Linked DNA regions of Homo sapiens: region 2 is linked to region 1. Evidence: fine-mapped expression QTL. Tissue or cell type: cerebellum. Region 1 holds a variant in brackets; the other region holds the start of a gene. All regions are shown on one strand. Distances are from middle to middle.

Region 1 (8,070 bases):
CCATCTTCCCGATGTCGTCCTTCCCACACAGCCGTGTCTTCGGTGACCATATGTAGTCTGTCTGCTGGAAAATTGTCTAGATGTCCAGGGCTTCTGGGGACATTGACCTAGTCCTCAGATGGAGAATATGTGGTGCTCAGGCCACACCTTCCATTCTCACACCTGGGGTAGACATCACTAATCCATGCAGCAGTCTTCCCCAGCCCTGAAATCTCGGAATTTTGCTCAGCCCAACCCTAACCCTAACTCCTACCAGCCAATTCAAGGTGATGATTAGATGGAATATTGTTGCCACCTGTAATCTGGTCCAATCCCCTAGTTGTGTAGACAGGGAAACTGAGGTTTTGAGAGGTGACATGGCTTTCCTGAAGTCACTGACAGGCAAGGTTTTGAGGAGATGCTGTAAGGGTCCCCTGGCTTGCTTCACTGTTTTGGTCACATGCTCATATTTAGGGACATATCAGGGAAAGTAAGCGGCCCCTTGCTAAGGGGAAAGAGCCCTTAGGCTGGGCTTGAACATGACCTGGCTTTTGCCCCATGCCACATGGTCAGAGCAGGTCACAGAGGCCACATTGCAGGCCCATTGGAGCTCTTTCCCTTCCCTTTGCCTCCTTTGCAGATGGGTCCTGTGTCCCTGTTCCACCCTCTGAAGGCCACCCTGGAGCAGACACAGCCGGCTGTGCTCCGAGGAGCCCGGGTTTTCCTTCGACAGAAGAGTTCCACCTCCCTCAGCAATGGCGGGGCCATGTGAGTATCCAGATGCAGGACATAGCTGGACAGGAGGAGGTCCAAAGACAGTAAAGGGGGAAGCAGACATCCCATTTCCTCAACCTCCCTGGCCCTCACTTCCACTGGCCTCTGGGTTCACCAGCTTGGAGGCACCTGAGGGGCGTGTCTGCCATCCGACCCTGCACTTGGGCCCTTAGCAACCCTCCAAGGACAGAGAGCCCCTAGGCCACATCTCAGTTCTCAGGGGCTGGCTTTGCTACAGATGCTTGTTGTACTTGCTGCCTGAGAGCAGTCAAGGGCTCTTCCTTTGCTGGGTTTCTGTGGCAGACTTTAAAATCGTTTCCTGTGACATTAGACAGGTGCTTCATCGAACCCGCCTTCCTAACAGCACTTAGACCACCACGTCCCATTCCCAACACACGCACCTGCTTCCCTTTCAGACAAGAGGCCCCTGCCCCTGCTCCTCATCGGCCCTCCGTGCCAGCAGACGCTGAGATTCCACCTCCATCTCCCACCCCTTTCTGTCAATGGCCTTCTACTGCTCTGATCTTTCTAACCCCGTAAGGCACTTTTCCTCTCAGATCTCCACTTTGGTACTGATTTCTGAAGCTGTTATATTTTGTAAAGAAATTGGTAAGGTTCTTTTGTATCACTTAACTCTTGCCACAATATTTCCGGGTAACAAATCACCCAGAAGCAGGTGACTTACAAGAACCATCACTTTTTCCCACTGTGGCCCAGAAAAGTGTGCTCCCAAATCTCAGGACCCAGATCCTGGGGGCTGACTCCCGAGCCGCTGGCAGCCCCCCATTCCCACACTGCTTTCAGCATGCTGTTGAAAACCTTCCTTGCATTTAAAGTCCTGATTCTGACTGTATGTGCAGGTGGGAGGAGATAGTGAGGTGTCTGGGGTTTATCTAAGCCAGGCTTTCAGCAGGAAATTGAGCTTCTGTTATTTCTGTGATGGTAGTTTCTACCTAAATCAATTACAACTCCAAGTCAGAGAGCACCCACTCAGACTGGGTCTGGTGAGGGTATTTATTGAGCCATTTAGTGAGCGGGTTGAGCACACCTCTGGCCTTGGACGTGGTGTTATTTCAGGGTTAGCGGTGCATTAGGAGCCAGCTCCGGTTCTCCTAACCACCCCTCCTCTCAGCACCAGCCTGCCACTGCGGCCGCTCTGTGCCTGGTGCCAGCAGGGGCTGCAGTGCCCCAGACAGCATGGAAGGAGAGCTGCTTGCAACTCTCAGAAGACAAAGGATGGGGCTTCTCAGAAGCCCCAGCAACCACCAGTGTGTCCTTCTGCCATCTCTGCGTCCACTGCTGTGGTCAGGGTGTGGTCCATTTAGACTATCAGGCTCCAGTCTGAGCTCAGAGTGATCAGTGCCACTCAACCTGCATGACTAAGAACGTAGTCTTCAGTGTTTCACTGAATGTGAGAATGAGCACTCACCCGAACACATTCCACGCCAGTTGGGAGATAAGTGATGAGAAATACCAGTGCGGAAGTATCTCCGGGTGGGGCTGTTGGGGCAGGCGTATGGGGAGCATGTGTGGGGTGGCCTCCGCCAGAAGGCTGCACCCCAGCAGAGAGCCGAGGGATGGAAGGGCTCATTGTGGCTTGGGGGGGGGGTCAGAGAAGTAAGGAGGAGCCACCAGCAAGGGACCCCTGAGGGAGGAAGCCCCTAGAGGAGGAAGCCCAAAGAGTCCCGGGCGAGGCCCCCTACCCCCCGTCCCAGCCCGTCCCCTCCATGACAGCTTTGCCCTCATCTGTCCCAGCCTGTCCTCTCCATGACAGCTTCTCTTGCTGTCTGCTGGCATAGGCAGGACTTCTTCAGCTACTGTCCTAATGCAGGCTGTACACATGCGGCCCCACTCCTTCCCAGGATAGTCCTGTGTGGCAAGGACAACCCCTGCTCCCACTTCACAGATCAGCCTCTTGTCCAGAGGAGCGGGTGACGGACCCAGGCCCCCCTCAGACTTGAGCACTGTGGGCTGTAAGCTGGTGCTCTGCATCCTCTCTGCCACTCTGAATCCCTTCTTGCTCTGACCCTGTTTTGGATCCATGTCCTTTGATGAGGCTTTGCCTGGGTCCAGCGTGCACAGGCCACGTTGGGGCTCTTGTGCCCAAAGGAGGGCTCAATTCAGTCCAGAACAGGGTGGCCAAACCCCCTGACCTCTGCTGCATGTGTTGGAGACGCCTGGCAGGTTGAAGCACCAGGCTATTGGTAAGGCACCTGCAGTCTCTGACCCTACAGGAATCTGTTTGTCTTCTCTGCCACAGACAAAACCAAGAGAGTGGCATCAAAGAGTCTGTCTCCTGGGGCACTCAAAGGACCCAGGATGCACCCCATGAGGCCAGGCCACCCCTGGAGCGTGGCCACTCCACAGAGATCCCTGTGGGGCGGTCAGGAGCACTGGTGAGCACTCCCGGGGGCTAGTGAGACTGGGTTGGGGGATGTGTGAACAGGGATGGGGGATGTTTGAGACTGGGGTGGGGGACGTGTGAACAGGGATGGGGGATTTTGAGACTGGGGTGGGGAACATGTGAGACTTGGGTGGGGGACGTGTGAGACTGGGGTGGGGGATGTGTGAGACCAGGGTGGGGGACGTGTGAGACTGGGGTGGGGGATGTGTGAACAGGGATGGGGGGTGTGTGAGACTGGGATGGGGGATTTTGAGACTGGGGTGGGGGACGTGTGAGACTGGGGTGGGGAACATGTGAGACTAGGGTGGGGGACATGTGAGACTTGGGTGGGGGATGTGTGAGACCAGGGTGGGGGACGTGTGAGACTGGGGTGGGGGATATGTGAACAGGGATGGGGGGTGTGTGAGACTGGGGTGGGGGACGTGTGAACAGCAGTGGGAGTTAGGTGAGACTGAGATGGATTTGGGTGAGACCCCAGTGCCTCATGGAGTGAGTCCGGGGTGGGATCAGATGAGTCCGCGGTGCCTTGTGTGGTGGGACTAGGTGAGTGCTGTATCCACAGGCTGTGGACGTTCAGATGCAGAGCATAACCCGGAGGGGCCCTGATGGGGAGCCCCAGCCTGGGCTGGAGAGCCAGGGTCGAGCGGCCTCCATGCCCCGCCTTGCGGCCGAGACTCAGGTAGGTGGTCTGGGAGGGTCCAGGCCCTGGGCTGGGCAAGTGGGGGGTGGGGAAGTGGGGCTGTGGCTCTGGGCCTCCTGCAGGTGAGGAGAGCTGGGGTAGAGAGGCTGGGGTCCATGTGTGGAGCTCTTTGCTGAGGCAGGAGCAGGCACCCCGGGCAGTCCTGTCTGGGCGCCGACAGAGGTGCAGCCTGGACGCCTTCAGCCCCTGAGGCTTCTCCAGAGGGTGGGTCAGGTCCGGTAGAGGACAGCTGTGCCTGTTCTCAGCCTCCTATTAGGGGCCATGGGGCATAGGGGCCCCCACTCTGGCTCAGCCACGTTCTGTTCCTCCTTTCCGGGGCTCTACTCCCTGAGACAACCCCCACTCTCATCCAGAAAATTTCACCGACACCTCAGTCCCCTCTCCCGCCCGTGGTTCTGCGGAGGACCCTCCCTGCTCATGGGCAGTCCCTGGACTACTTTTCTACCCAGCTCCTTGCTGGGCTCGCCTCTTTCTGGGACATGCACACTGGATTCAGGAAGAGGAAGCTCTGGCCCCATGTGTTTCCCGGGGGAGGCTCCTTCCACAAGGACACTGGGAGGATCGCCCCTCCGAGGCCAATCTGGGAACACTGTGCCCCGGCCTCCGAGGCCTCGGAGGAGCTGCAGGGCCTCACCTGCAACATGAGCCTGCTTCAGTTGGCCAAAAGTGACCGGAGCCCCCGTGCCAGCCCTGTCCCTCGGCCGACCTGGGCTGTGGAGCTGTGGATCTGAACCTCGTCCGTGGCTCGTCTCCCATCCCACTGCTGTGGCCAGCAAACCCTTTTCCTCTCCTCACTGCCTCTCCTCCCTCTTAGGGTTTTCTCCTCTTCCCACCTGTCCTTCCTCTCTTGTCTCTTTCCCCGCCCAGTGGTACCCTCCTGGGTGCTGCCTGGTGGGTG[G/C]GTGCAGGCTGAGCCTCCCTGCAGCCTGTGCTGGGGCCTCCTCCTTCACACACGTGATGCATTGGCGGCTGTGGGTGAGTTTACCTGGGAGGGCCTACCCGTCCCAGGTGTCTTCACGGGTCCTGATTCTGGCCGTGGAAGCAGCTCGGGAGCCAGTCCACCCCAGACGCACCAGGCAGAGTGATCCCATTGCAGCCAGCAGAGGCGTCTCTGGTTTCCACTCAGGGTTCTTCCAACCAAGCCAGCCACCTCTCTCTTCCTGGCACGACACATGGGATGGGGCGGGGACTCAGGCACTGTCTGCCCCCAGCCTGCCCTCCTGGGCTACCATTTCAGGCCTGGGTCCTTCTGACTGTGAGACCAGGATGGGGGGCGTGTGGGCCTGCTGTCTGGCCTGCTCCACCACCCACTTCCATGCCTGCATTCCCGCTGACCCTGGTGCCTCCCCTAGGCCCACTCTCAGTCCTTTGCCCACAGCCCGTCACAGATGCCAGCCCCATGAAGCGCTCCATCTCCACGCTGGCCCAGCGGCCCCGTGGGACTCATCTTTGCAGCACCACCCCGGACCGCCCACCCCCTAGCCAGGCGTCGTCGCACCACCACCACCACCGCTGCCACCGCCGCAGGGACAGGAAGCAGAGGTCCCTGGAGAAGGGGCCCAGCCTGTCTGCCGATATGGATGGCGGTGCGTGCGGAGGGGCCCGGGGAGTCCTTCGGGGAGCTATGGCCCGAGTCAGGGGGTCCAAGCGGCCCATGGGGGACCCTCTTCCTTTGTGGGCCTCGTGACCCCATAACCAGCCAGAGCAGGGTGGGACTGAGGCCCAGGCCCTAACCCTCACCCTAGCCTCCCCTGGCACCACCTGAATTCTGTCCTGCTGGGCCCGGGGGTCAGGGGTCCCTGCCTTGGGCCTGGCCGTGCTAACTTCTTCTCTTCCCTGGCCAGCACCAAGCAGTGCTGTGGGGCCGGGGCTGCCCCCGGGAGAGGGGCCTACAGGCTGCCGGCGGGAACGAGAGCGCCGGCAGGAGCGGGGCCGGTCCCAGGAGCGGAGGCAGCCCTCATCCTCCTCCTCGGAGAAGCAGCGCTTCTACTCCTGCGACCGCTTTGGGGGCCGTGAGCCCCCGAAGCCCAAGCCCTCCCTCAGCAGCCACCCAACGTCGCCAACAGCTGGCCAGGAGCCGGGACCCCACCCACAGGTAAGAGGAATAGGTGGAGAGGTCAGGGCCCAGCTGCCTCTCCTCGGCCCAGCACCCCTGTCCCACAGGCTCCTGCCTCTCCCCAGGGCCTCGCTGCTGCCCTTTGTCATTCCCAGCAACCCAAGGGCCGGGCGCTCCCCTCTGTGCCCTGTCCCGGAGCCCACGTCTGCAGCCTACCCCAGCTGTGTTCTCATCAAGCTCCTGCCTGGGTCACCCTGGGACAGTGGTTCTGCGTCCTATCCACTTTCGGACCTGGGCCCCCAAATACTTACCTCTCTCTCGGTCACTTAACTCTCCTTCCCTGACTGTGGTCGTTGGGCTTTTGTTCTGTCCTTTTCCCTGGCCCCAGCCTGTCCCTTCCCATCACCTGCTCTCCCCAACCCCATTCCTGGGCCTGACCCTGACCATCGCCCTCCCCCGCACACAGGTGCCTGTTGCCTCCCTGGTCACCGCAGCCCGTTGTCCCCCATTGCCTCCCTCTCTCCTCCCATCCCCCCAGGCACCTGTGTGTGATGTGCTCTGTCTGTTGGTTCGGCTTTTTTTTTTTTTTTTTTACCTCTGATTTGTTCTGGTCCATTTTCATGTAGGGCAGTGGTTCCGTGAATGGGAGCCCCTTGCTGTCAACATCTGGTGCTAGCACCCCCGGCCGCGGTGGGCGGAGGCAGCTCCCCCAGACGCCCCTGACTCCCCGCCCCAGCATCACCTACAAGACGGCCAACTCCTCACCCATCCACTTCGCCGGGGCTCAGACCAGCCTCCCTGCCTTCTCCCCAGGCCGGCTCAGCCGTGGGCTTTCCGAACACAACGCCCTGCTGCAGAGAGACCCCCTCAGCCAGCCCCTGGCCCCTGGCTCTCGAATTGGCTCTGACCCTTACCTGGGGCAGCGTCTGGACAGTGAGGCCTCTGTCCACGCCCTGCCTGAGGACACTCTCACTTTCGAGGAGGCTGTGGCCACCAACTCGGGCCGCTCCTCCAGGACTTCCTACGTGTCCTCCCTGACCTCCCAGTCTCACCCTCTCCGCCGCGTGCCCAACGGTTACCACTGCACCCTGGGACTCAGCTCGGGTGGCCGAGCACGGCACAGCTACCACCACCCTGACCAAGACCACTGGTGCTAGCTGCACCGTGACCGCTCAGACGCCTGCATGCAGCAGGCGTGTGTTCCAGTGGATGAGTTTTATCATCCACACGGGGCAGCCGGCCCTCGGGGGAGGCCTTGCCCACCTTGGTGAGGCTCCTGTGGCCCCTCCCTCCCCCTCCTCCCCTCTTTTACTCTAGACGACGAATAAAGCCCTGTTAGAGGATGCGGCTCTCTCTGTCCCCTTCCTGTCCTGCCTTCCTGGGTCTCGTACCACACACCAGACCCTAAACCGCAGGCTGCTGTGTGTGGCTGAGAAGGACCCAGGAGTCCAAATCCCGTGTCCTGGGACTCAGCATCCAGCATGGGTGCTTGGAGCCGTTGTGAGGAGCTCTGCGTCCTGTGGGGAGCACCCTTCACGTGGCCGTGCGGCACAGAGAAGCAGGGCCCACCTGAAAGTGCGCCGAGACCTCGGGACGGAGGGGATGGGGAGGGGGACACAGTCGTGGCTTGTGCAGCCCGCCAGTGTCAGCGAATGCTCACTCAGGCAAGCTCTGTCCTCCCTGGACACCGTCAGCCCCACAGGAACCGAGCTGGGAAGTGTTCTTGCTGTGGTTGTGATTTTTAATTGCAACACCTCTCATTCTTGTCACTTCTATATACGTGATGTAGAAAAAATGGAAAACCAGAAAAATGGGGAAGGAAATGTTCACATAACTTTAAAAAATCAAACCTGTGAAAGAAAGATGTCAGCTTTTTGCCACGTGTCTTTGTGGCTTATGCGAGGAGACTCCCTGTGCAGCCCTGTCCGGTCCAGGTGGACGTAGACGGCCCCTGGCTCTGCTGCTCTTGACCAAGTGCCTGACCGCCAGGCCCTCACACCCAGGCTCCTGGGCACTGTGGTGTGAGGCGAGGCCTCGGGATCCATCACCGCAGGATGCTGTGAAAAGTACTCGCGATGGCAGCCAGGTAGCAAGCCCTTGCCAGTGGAGAGCACTGGATGTCATGGTGGCAAACAAGGCAGCCATTTGCTGTCCTCCTCC
Region 2 (8,070 bases), 240 kb before region 1:
AGGGAGTGAGGGATGGGGGTGGGGGACAGGGGGCAGCAGAAGGACTCTGAGGTTGGAGAGGGATGGGGGAGGGGCTGTGAGCAAGTGTGCTGGAGGGTCCGGAGGAAGATGGGACCCTCGAGGGGTGACAAGCTCGCTGGTCGTTGGCTTAGACACTGCAGCAGTGCCCACCACGCAGCCTGTCCTGGACTTAGTCACCCCCAGCTCCAGACTTGTCAACTCTACACATTTCTCTTGTGGATTCTCTTCCCTATAGCCCTGGATGAGCATTTCAAACCCTCTCCTCCCTCGCCAACCTGCAAATGCCCCCTTCTCACTCTCAGTTGCTTGTTTTGTTTCTTGTTTCACTGAGAAAGTAGAATAATCACAATAAAACCCTCATCCTCCCCCAAATGAATCCTCCAGCCCACCTGTGCCTGCAATCGTGCGACCCGCTTTTCTTTCCCTGCCTCGAGTGAGCTGTCCCAAGTCTGATGCCCTCTTGCCTGGACGAGGCAAGACACTCTTTTTCTTGCATCAGCAATTTTTCTTTCTGTTGAGTCATTGCCATCACATACGAAGTCCAATAATATCCCCTACCTTAAAAAACAAACAAACAAAAAACTCCTTAATGCTGCATCTGTGTTGTTCCCTGTCTCACTGGACAAGCTGTCTACACCTGCTGTAGGGACTTCCTCACCGAACGAGCTGTCTACACCTGCTGTAGGGATTTCCTCACCAACCGAGCTGTCTACACCTCCTGTAGGGACTTCCTCACCGACCGAGCTGTCTACACCTGCTGTAGGGACTTCCTCACCGACCGAGCTGTCTACACCTGCTGTAGGGACTTCCTCACCGACCGAGCTGTCTACACCTGCTGTAGGGACTTCCTCACCGACCGAGCTGTCTACACCTGCTGTAGGGACTTCCTCACCGACCGAGCTGTCTACACCTGCTGTAGGGACTTCCTCACCGACCGAGCTGTCTACACCTGCTGTAGGGACTTCCTCACCGACCGAGCTGTCTACACCTGCTGTAGGGACTTCCTCACCGACCGAGCTGTCTACACCTGCTGTAGGCACTTCCTCACCGACCGAGCTGTCTACACCTGCTGTAGGCACTTCCTCACTGGACGAGCTGTCTACACCTGCTGTAGGCACTTCCTCACTGGACGAGCTGTCTACACCTGCTGTAGGCACTTCCTCACTGAACGAGCTGTCTACACCTGCTGTAGGGACTTCCTCACCGACCGAGCTGTCTACACCTGCTGTAGGGACTTCCTCACCGACCAAGCTGTCTACACCTGCTGTAGGGACTTCCTAACTGAACAAGCTGTCTACACCCGCAGTAGGCACTGCCTCACTGACCGAGCTGTCTACACCCGCTATAGGGACTTCCTAACTGAACAAGCTGTCTACACCCACAGTAGGCACTGCCTCACTGACCGAGCTGTCTACACCCGCTATAGACACTTCCTCACTGACCGAGCTGTCTATACCTGCTGTAGGGACTTCCTCACTGAACGAGCTGTCTACACCTGCTGTAGGCACTTCCTCACTGAATGAGCTGTCTATACCTGCTGTAGGGACTTCCTCACTGAACGAGCTGTCTACACCCGCTGTAGGGACTTCCTCACAACTCATTCTCTTCAATCCGCCCCACTCGGGCTGCTCCTCTGTGGAAACTGCTGTCCGGGTGATGGGCACCTCTGTCTTTCCACTCTGATGGCTGAATGTCGGTCCTCATCTCTATGGACTACACGCACTCCTCCCTCAGCTCCGGGACAGGGCACTCCCCCGACCCCCCACAGCCCTGGCTGCTCCTCCTCACCGGCTTCATTCTTGGGGAGTGGCAGCATCCTCTGTCTCTGACTTCGGTCGCTTCCTCGGTGGTGATGCATCAGGCAGGATGACACTTGCAAGGGACCATCTACCACAATCTGTGCGATCTGTGCAAGGCGCAGGGAAGTCCCAAGGGCCAGGATTCACCATGCCTGCGTGATGCCATCCCCCGCTGGCAGGAACAAGGGGAGGACGCAGGAACTGGAACTGGAGAGAGAGAAAGGAGAGTGGTGGGTGCCTGACAGGGCCGGAGCTTCAATTGAGGTGCACAGCCAACCCTCGGTGACCTGGCAGGAGGAAGTCAGGGGAATAGTAGACACCTTGGCCTTGCTCTTTCCTTCCCTCAAGGGCCTTTGGTGCTCCTGTTGGGCTAGCATAACCAGAAACCACAGGTCAAGGAACAGGCTGATGTGGCTTTCAAAGGCCAGCTCCAGCGTCACGCAGCACGGAGGGAAGGGCAGAGCAGATGTGGCGAGCCCAGCCTCCAGGCGCAGGGCTGCAGCAGTGGCCTCTCGTCTTGGCATCCCTCGAGAAACTCCACCCCTGCATAGCATCTCCACTTCTGTCCCCAGTAGGCAATTCTTAATTTCCACCCTGTGACTAACAAGCTCTTCCCTCTGTCTTCCCCATCTCGGCAAAGGGCATCCCCCTCGACTCAGTCACTCAGACCAAAAATGAAGAGCCTGTGTTTCTATCTCTCCTTCACATTTACACTGGACGCACTCTCTCTAAGAGAAAGAGGCACTGCTCATGGCCCCCATGTTCAAACCACATCATCTCTCTCTGTGCTGCTGTCAAAACCCCTCCCTGGGCTCTGATTTTTCTCTGTGACAGGCCAGTTGGCAGCCTCCCCGACAGCCTTAGCACCTGCTTCCCAGCTAAGCGAACCCTGATTTTGTTTGGGGCAACTATGTGCTCGCCTAGTGGGGGCTGGCCATCCTGGTCCACTTTGACACATGTTCACTTTCCCACCCTGTTAAAGTCAGGGCCGGCCACATGGCCCATGGCCTAACGGGGTTAAAGAGACACTTGCAGGGGGAGCCTCTGAGAAGCTTTTCCTTTGTTAGAAAAGAAAATCGTAACCTGATTCACAAAGTGGTCATCCTTTGTACACCTGCCACTTCCTTCCCGTTTGAGATGCTGGTGTAGCGGTGTGATGCCCTGTGCTATGACAGCCACCCTGGGGCATGAGGCAACAGGCAGGAAGGCAGAAAGTGTATGTGGGGATTTTGGAGGGAGGAGAGATGGTGGCTTCGTATTCAGTGAGATCACAATGGCATCGTGCAAGCTGCTGCTAGCTGGGAAGCGGGTTGTTCGCCTCTGAATGCATCCTAAGTGATTCAGCACCCCAGCCTCCTGCAGTCCACACTCCACACGGCAGCCCGAGGGACCCTTCAGAGGCCTACGCGCCTCTGCTCGGAACTGTGCGGACTGCCTCCCTCTCAGAAGGCGCAGCCCGCACCCGGCCTCACTCTGCACTCAGCGCCTTGCGAGCGAGCTTCAGGTCCGAGAGGGTCCCTTGTTCCCGAAGGTCTCCCCGACCCCGGGGCCGCCTTTTTGGAGGTTGTGAGGACCCACGGGCCTGCACGAAGTGAGCGCTGTGTAAATGGTTGCTGTGCTTTGTACAAAACGGTCAGCTCCGTGAGGGCAGAGCTGGGAGCCCAGGACAGGCCCGGCCCGCGGTGGGCGCTCAAGGAGGCCTGGGGAATGGCAGTGACCGTGACAGGTTCCCTAACGGGGCGTGGCCTGCAAGGCGGTCAGAGGCTTCTCTGAGCTGAGATCCCGGAGCCAGCCCCGTGCGTGGAAACAGCAGGTCCCGCACCCGGGCTGGGGGCCCCCGACAGAAGCGTCCGCGTGGCACCAAGGCCGCGAGCCGAGCGCACCCGGAGGGTTGGGAAGGCCGGGGACCCGGCGGGGACGGGGCGGGCCGGCCCAGGCCTGGCGCCCAGCTCTGGGCTGCAGCCCCAGGGCTGGTGGCGCCTCCGGGCGGAGCGAGGGGTCCGTCTGGGCCGAGTTTGAGGAGCCGAGGGCACCCAGGGGCGGTGCGGCCGGCAGAGTGGGCTCCGGGGACGGCCCGGGCTGGCGCTGAGCGGCCGTCGAGGACCCACAGGCTCGTCCGCTCCTGGGCCCGGCCCAGCCCCGGGGTGGGAGGCGCGGGGCGAGGGAGGCGCAGCCGGAGGGGCCGGGGCGGGGCGGGGGCGGCCGCGGGGCGGGGCCGGCGCGGCAGGGTGGGCGGGGCCGGCGCGGATTGGCCGGGCCCCGCCACGTGACCGGCCCCTTATAGGGCGTGGCGCGGGGCCGCGGAGTCGGGTGAGGCGGCGGCGGCTGCGGCGGTGGGGCCGGGCGAGGTCCGCTGCGGTCCCGGCGGCTCCGTGGCTGCTCCGCTCTGAGCGCCTGGCGCGCCCCGCGCCCTCCCTGCCGGGGCCGCTGGGCCGGGGATGCACGCGGGGCCCGGGAGCCATGGTCCGCTTCGGGGACGAGCTGGGCGGCCGCTATGGGGGCCCCGGCGGCGGAGAGCGGGCCCGGGGCGGCGGGGCCGGCGGGGCGGGGGGCCCGGGTCCCGGGGGGCTGCAGCCCGGCCAGCGGGTCCTCTACAAGCAATCGATCGCGCAGCGCGCGCGGACCATGGCGCTGTACAACCCCATCCCGGTCAAGCAGAACTGCTTCACCGTCAACCGCTCGCTCTTCGTCTTCAGCGAGGACAACGTCGTCCGCAAATACGCGAAGCGCATCACCGAGTGGCCATATCCTGCCGGGCGGGGCCGGGCGGGGCCGGGCGGGGACCGGGGTGGGGGCCGGGGCCGGGGCCATCTTCCCGGTGGCCGGGAGGGCGCGACCTGGGGAGGCGTCGGGAGACGGGCGAGGGGGGTACGGAGCGCCCCAGGGCCCCTCGGAGCGGCGGGTGCGGGAGCATTTCCGTGAGTGCGGCGGGCGCGGGGCGGAGCCCCTCTGCTCCGGACTCGTCCCTCCGCACGCCGGGTCCTGGGGATCCTGGTCGGTGCACAGTGCGCGGCTAGCCTGGAGGGCACCGAGGGCGAAGCCGCGTCCGTGCAGGTGCGAGCGCTGTGGGGACGCGGCCGTGCGCGCGCCTGGCTGCAGGTGCCTGCGTGTGCGGGCTGAGCTGGAGCCTGGCGCTGCGCGTGCGTGCGCTCGCGATGCGGGCTACATGCATGTTCACGTGCCTGTGTAGGTACATGTGGCTGCGTGTCTGGAGGGAGCAGCGTGCGCCTGCGCGGGGTCTCCCTCCAGCCTCGCCTGGGGGCGCTCGGCCCCCTCCCCTCGGGGCCCTGGAGTCGGGCGGAGCCGGGCCGGAGGCGCTGTCCGCGGTGCTGACGGCCGCCCGGGTGTGCCGAGGGGCTGGCGGCCCAGACTGCGGAGGCCCCGCCTCGCGGCCGCCCCTAGGGATGGGGGCAGGGAGTGAGGGAGACCAGGCCGCTTCCGCCAGGAGAGGGGCTCCGGACCCAGTTGTCTCAGCCCCTCCGGAGACGGCCTAGCGGTGGCTGCTGCACTGGGCTCTGCTGGCGTCGGCCTCGTGTTTCCCTCCGTGCGGCGTCTGCCGGCCAGTCCTTAACTCACGCACTCCATTCGAGTATATGATCCTGGCCACCATCATCGCCAACTGCATCGTGCTGGCCCTGGAGCAGCACCTCCCTGATGGGGACAAAACGCCCATGTCCGAGCGGCTGGTGAGTGCCCGGCTGGGCCTGAGGGCAGGGTGGTGGGGAGGCCGCGACTCCACTTTCCTTTATGGTCTGTGCCTGAGAACAGCTTCCTCGGGCAGGGTCGTCTGGGCAGTGCCCCTCGCGTCTGAAGGAAAAGGTAGGCCTGGCAGATAACACCTTCCTCGAGGGCCAGGGCAGCTGGGGTCACCGGCTTAGCCCTGGGCGTGGCCACGTTAGCCCTGGGCCAGTCTGCCCTGTGCCACGAGCTACTCCTGCACCTCAATGGCTGTCCTGGCTTTCGGCGCTAGACTTTGATCCAGAAAACCATGTTCTAAACTTGGGGTGGGGAAGGGGCATTCATGTCTTCGGGAAGGTCAGCTCTGAATGCCATGTGTGCCCTGCTGGGCTGAGATGGGCTTTGGCCTGGATGTGGGAACCCTGAGCCTCATCCTCCAAGTTGTCTTGTGCGGGCCTGCTTGGAACCTCTTCTCCAGTGGGCCTCACCATCCTGTGGGAAGCATTCCTTCTCAAACATTCTGAATCATTTTTACCTGTCCCCAGATTCCAGCCAAGAGGCCCCCGTGGTAGCCCCCATTGGAGCATAGAGTCTGTGTGAGTCAGGGTGCCAGGGCAAGGTCTCCGTGGCTCAACAGGAGGCAAGGTGGAAGGCCAGCCCTGTGGGGTCTCTGGAGGGGCTGGGTCAGAGGAAGGGCAGCATTTTGGAGGTGAGCAGTTTCTGAGGTCAGAGCATGTCCCCCAGCCCCCACTCTTCCCTGATGCCTGGCCCCATGTCTGGGTTCCGAGTGTGCCTAAAGACTGGAGCCTCCAGGTGAGCAGAAGGCAGAGCAAGTGGGGGCCCAGGGGGTGCGGGGCCAGAGGCGTCCAGGAGACGGCCTCTCTGGGGTGTCAGGAGCTGCTCCCTCTTCCCTTAAGCCTGGCTTCCGCCCCCACTAGCATCCTGAGACAAGAGCTATTCAGACTTTAGCCCTGAAACTGAACTCCCTTTGAACCTGGGCCACCGCAGGCCCAGGAGTGCAGAAGGGGAGACAGGGAGCCTGTCCTGGAGGTGAGGCACCAGGAGGTGAGTTATGGGTGGCCGAGGTGAGGAGGTCTTAATGGAGCACAGTCTGGAATGCCCAGTGGTCTGGGTTACGGCCGGGTGAGGAGGAGGAGCATGGACAGCCCAGCCACACCATGAGGCAGGCGTGAGTCATGGTCCCTGTGGGGGACTTGGGCAGGACCCTGGTGGGGCCCATTGCTTTCTGGAGGCTGGAGAAGAGGGTGAGCTTGAGAGGAAACAGGCAGAGAGCCTTGAATGCCAAGTCACAGGAAGGAGGGCAGGGCCAGGGTCAGAGGGACGCAGGCCCAGGAGCCAGGCCGGGGCGGGGGCAGGGAGGATCAAGCTGTCTTGCCCTGCCAGGCAGTGGGTGTCCAGCCTTGCAAGTTCCTGCCTCGCAGGTGTGGGAGGGTTTACTTTGTGGTCATAGGTTGGGGAGGACACTTCTAGGAGTGGCGAGCTAACCTGTTGGGAAAACTGCAGAACATGCCCGCCCTGAGCCAGCCTAGAGGTCTGGGGAGCTCTTGACCAGTCCCAGTCCCATGTGCAGGCCCAGCCATTGATGTCCCCTGGGATGGAGGGGAGGCTGTGCTGCTGCCCACAGAGCAGGCCGAGGCTGGGTGGTGCAGGGGCAGCCCCTCAGTTGTCTCCCAGCCTGGCCCTGGGCGAGGCCTCCCTGGTTCCCTGCCTCTCGGGGCTGTTTCCCACCTCCCCGTCGACTCTGGAGCTACCTCGAGCCAGGCCCCAGCTTGCAGTGCAACACCAAGCTGCCTGCACACCCATCCCTCCCACCTAAGCCAGCCTTCAGCCATGGGCTGGGCAGGGCAGAGCTGTGAGGAGAGGGCTCGGGCTGGGGGCTCCTTCCCAGCTGAGGGTGCTGGCTGGTCCTTCCTAGGCGTCGGGCCTGTTCTCTTTTTCACCAGGAAGTTTCCTGTGAAGATCTCTGTCTGCTGCGGCCCCACTGTTCCCCTGGGGCAGATGGTCAGCAACCCCACCCCTTGGGAAAAGGGGTCCCTCCTAAACAAATCAGACCAGAAGGCTCGAGGCCAGGAAGAGCATGGGCGAGTCAGCACGGGTCATGATGGACCCTTGGGTGCTGGTAGCTTCTACCAGGTACTGCCAGCCAAGCCTTGGGCCAGCTCCACCACAGGACAGGAGGAGCCCAGGCTGAGTAAGGTGGGAGTCAGATGCGGAGAGCCCTCGAGAGCCTGGCTTCCTGGGGAGGAAGGCACAGGCTGTGGAACTGGTGGCACTCACCTCACCTGGCAGCTCTGTGGCAGCCCAGCAGCTGCTTCTTCCTGTGACTTCCACAGTCCTGAAGACGAACCCTCAGGGGAGGCCCTTGAAGCTGGTCTCCTCTCCCCACCCCTTCACCTGCTTCCTAAGGCAGCAGCCCTGGAGTGCAGGTGTCCGACACCCCCATGCCAACCCTGCACATGCAGCTCCCTCAGCCCAGCTTCCCGGGCTTGCCTTGCACAGGGCCTTTCCCTGCCAGCCCCACGCGTGTGCTCACGAGGAGTCTTTGGGGTCT

What was found. PIP is the estimated chance that this variant, and not a neighbour inherited with it, causes the effect.
Region 2: it holds the start of CACNA1B, and the variant in region 1 is fine-mapped to the expression of CACNA1B in cerebellum (GTEx, PIP above 0.99). The same link has a PIP of 0.9 or more in anterior cingulate cortex and cerebral cortex.

What each region holds. Positions count from the first base shown.
Region 1 is chr9:138,114,933-138,123,002 of GRCh38, forward strand. CACNA1B (calcium voltage-gated channel subunit alpha1 B) reads left to right here. Exons shown (of 47, transcript NM_000718.4): 42 at 620-747; 43 at 3,014-3,149; 44 at 3,720-3,836; 45 at 5,233-5,440; 46 at 5,699-5,949; 47 at 6,537-8,070. The coding sequence ends at 7,067. Among named protein-coding and RNA genes, the nearest start is that of FAM157B, 98 kb to the right of the region's middle. The variant G/C (reference allele first, on the strand shown) is at 4,756.
Region 2 is chr9:137,873,654-137,881,723 of GRCh38, forward strand. It overlaps CACNA1B (calcium voltage-gated channel subunit alpha1 B), which reads left to right and starts at 4,129. Exons shown (of 47, transcript NM_000718.4): 1 at 4,129-4,564; 2 at 5,401-5,506. The coding sequence starts at 4,281. It overlaps CACNA1B-AS2 (CACNA1B antisense RNA 2), which reads right to left. Exons shown (of 4, transcript NR_121583.1): 3 at 1,810-2,027. RefSeq lists enhancers at 1-1,087, 4,322-5,237, 7,506-8,007.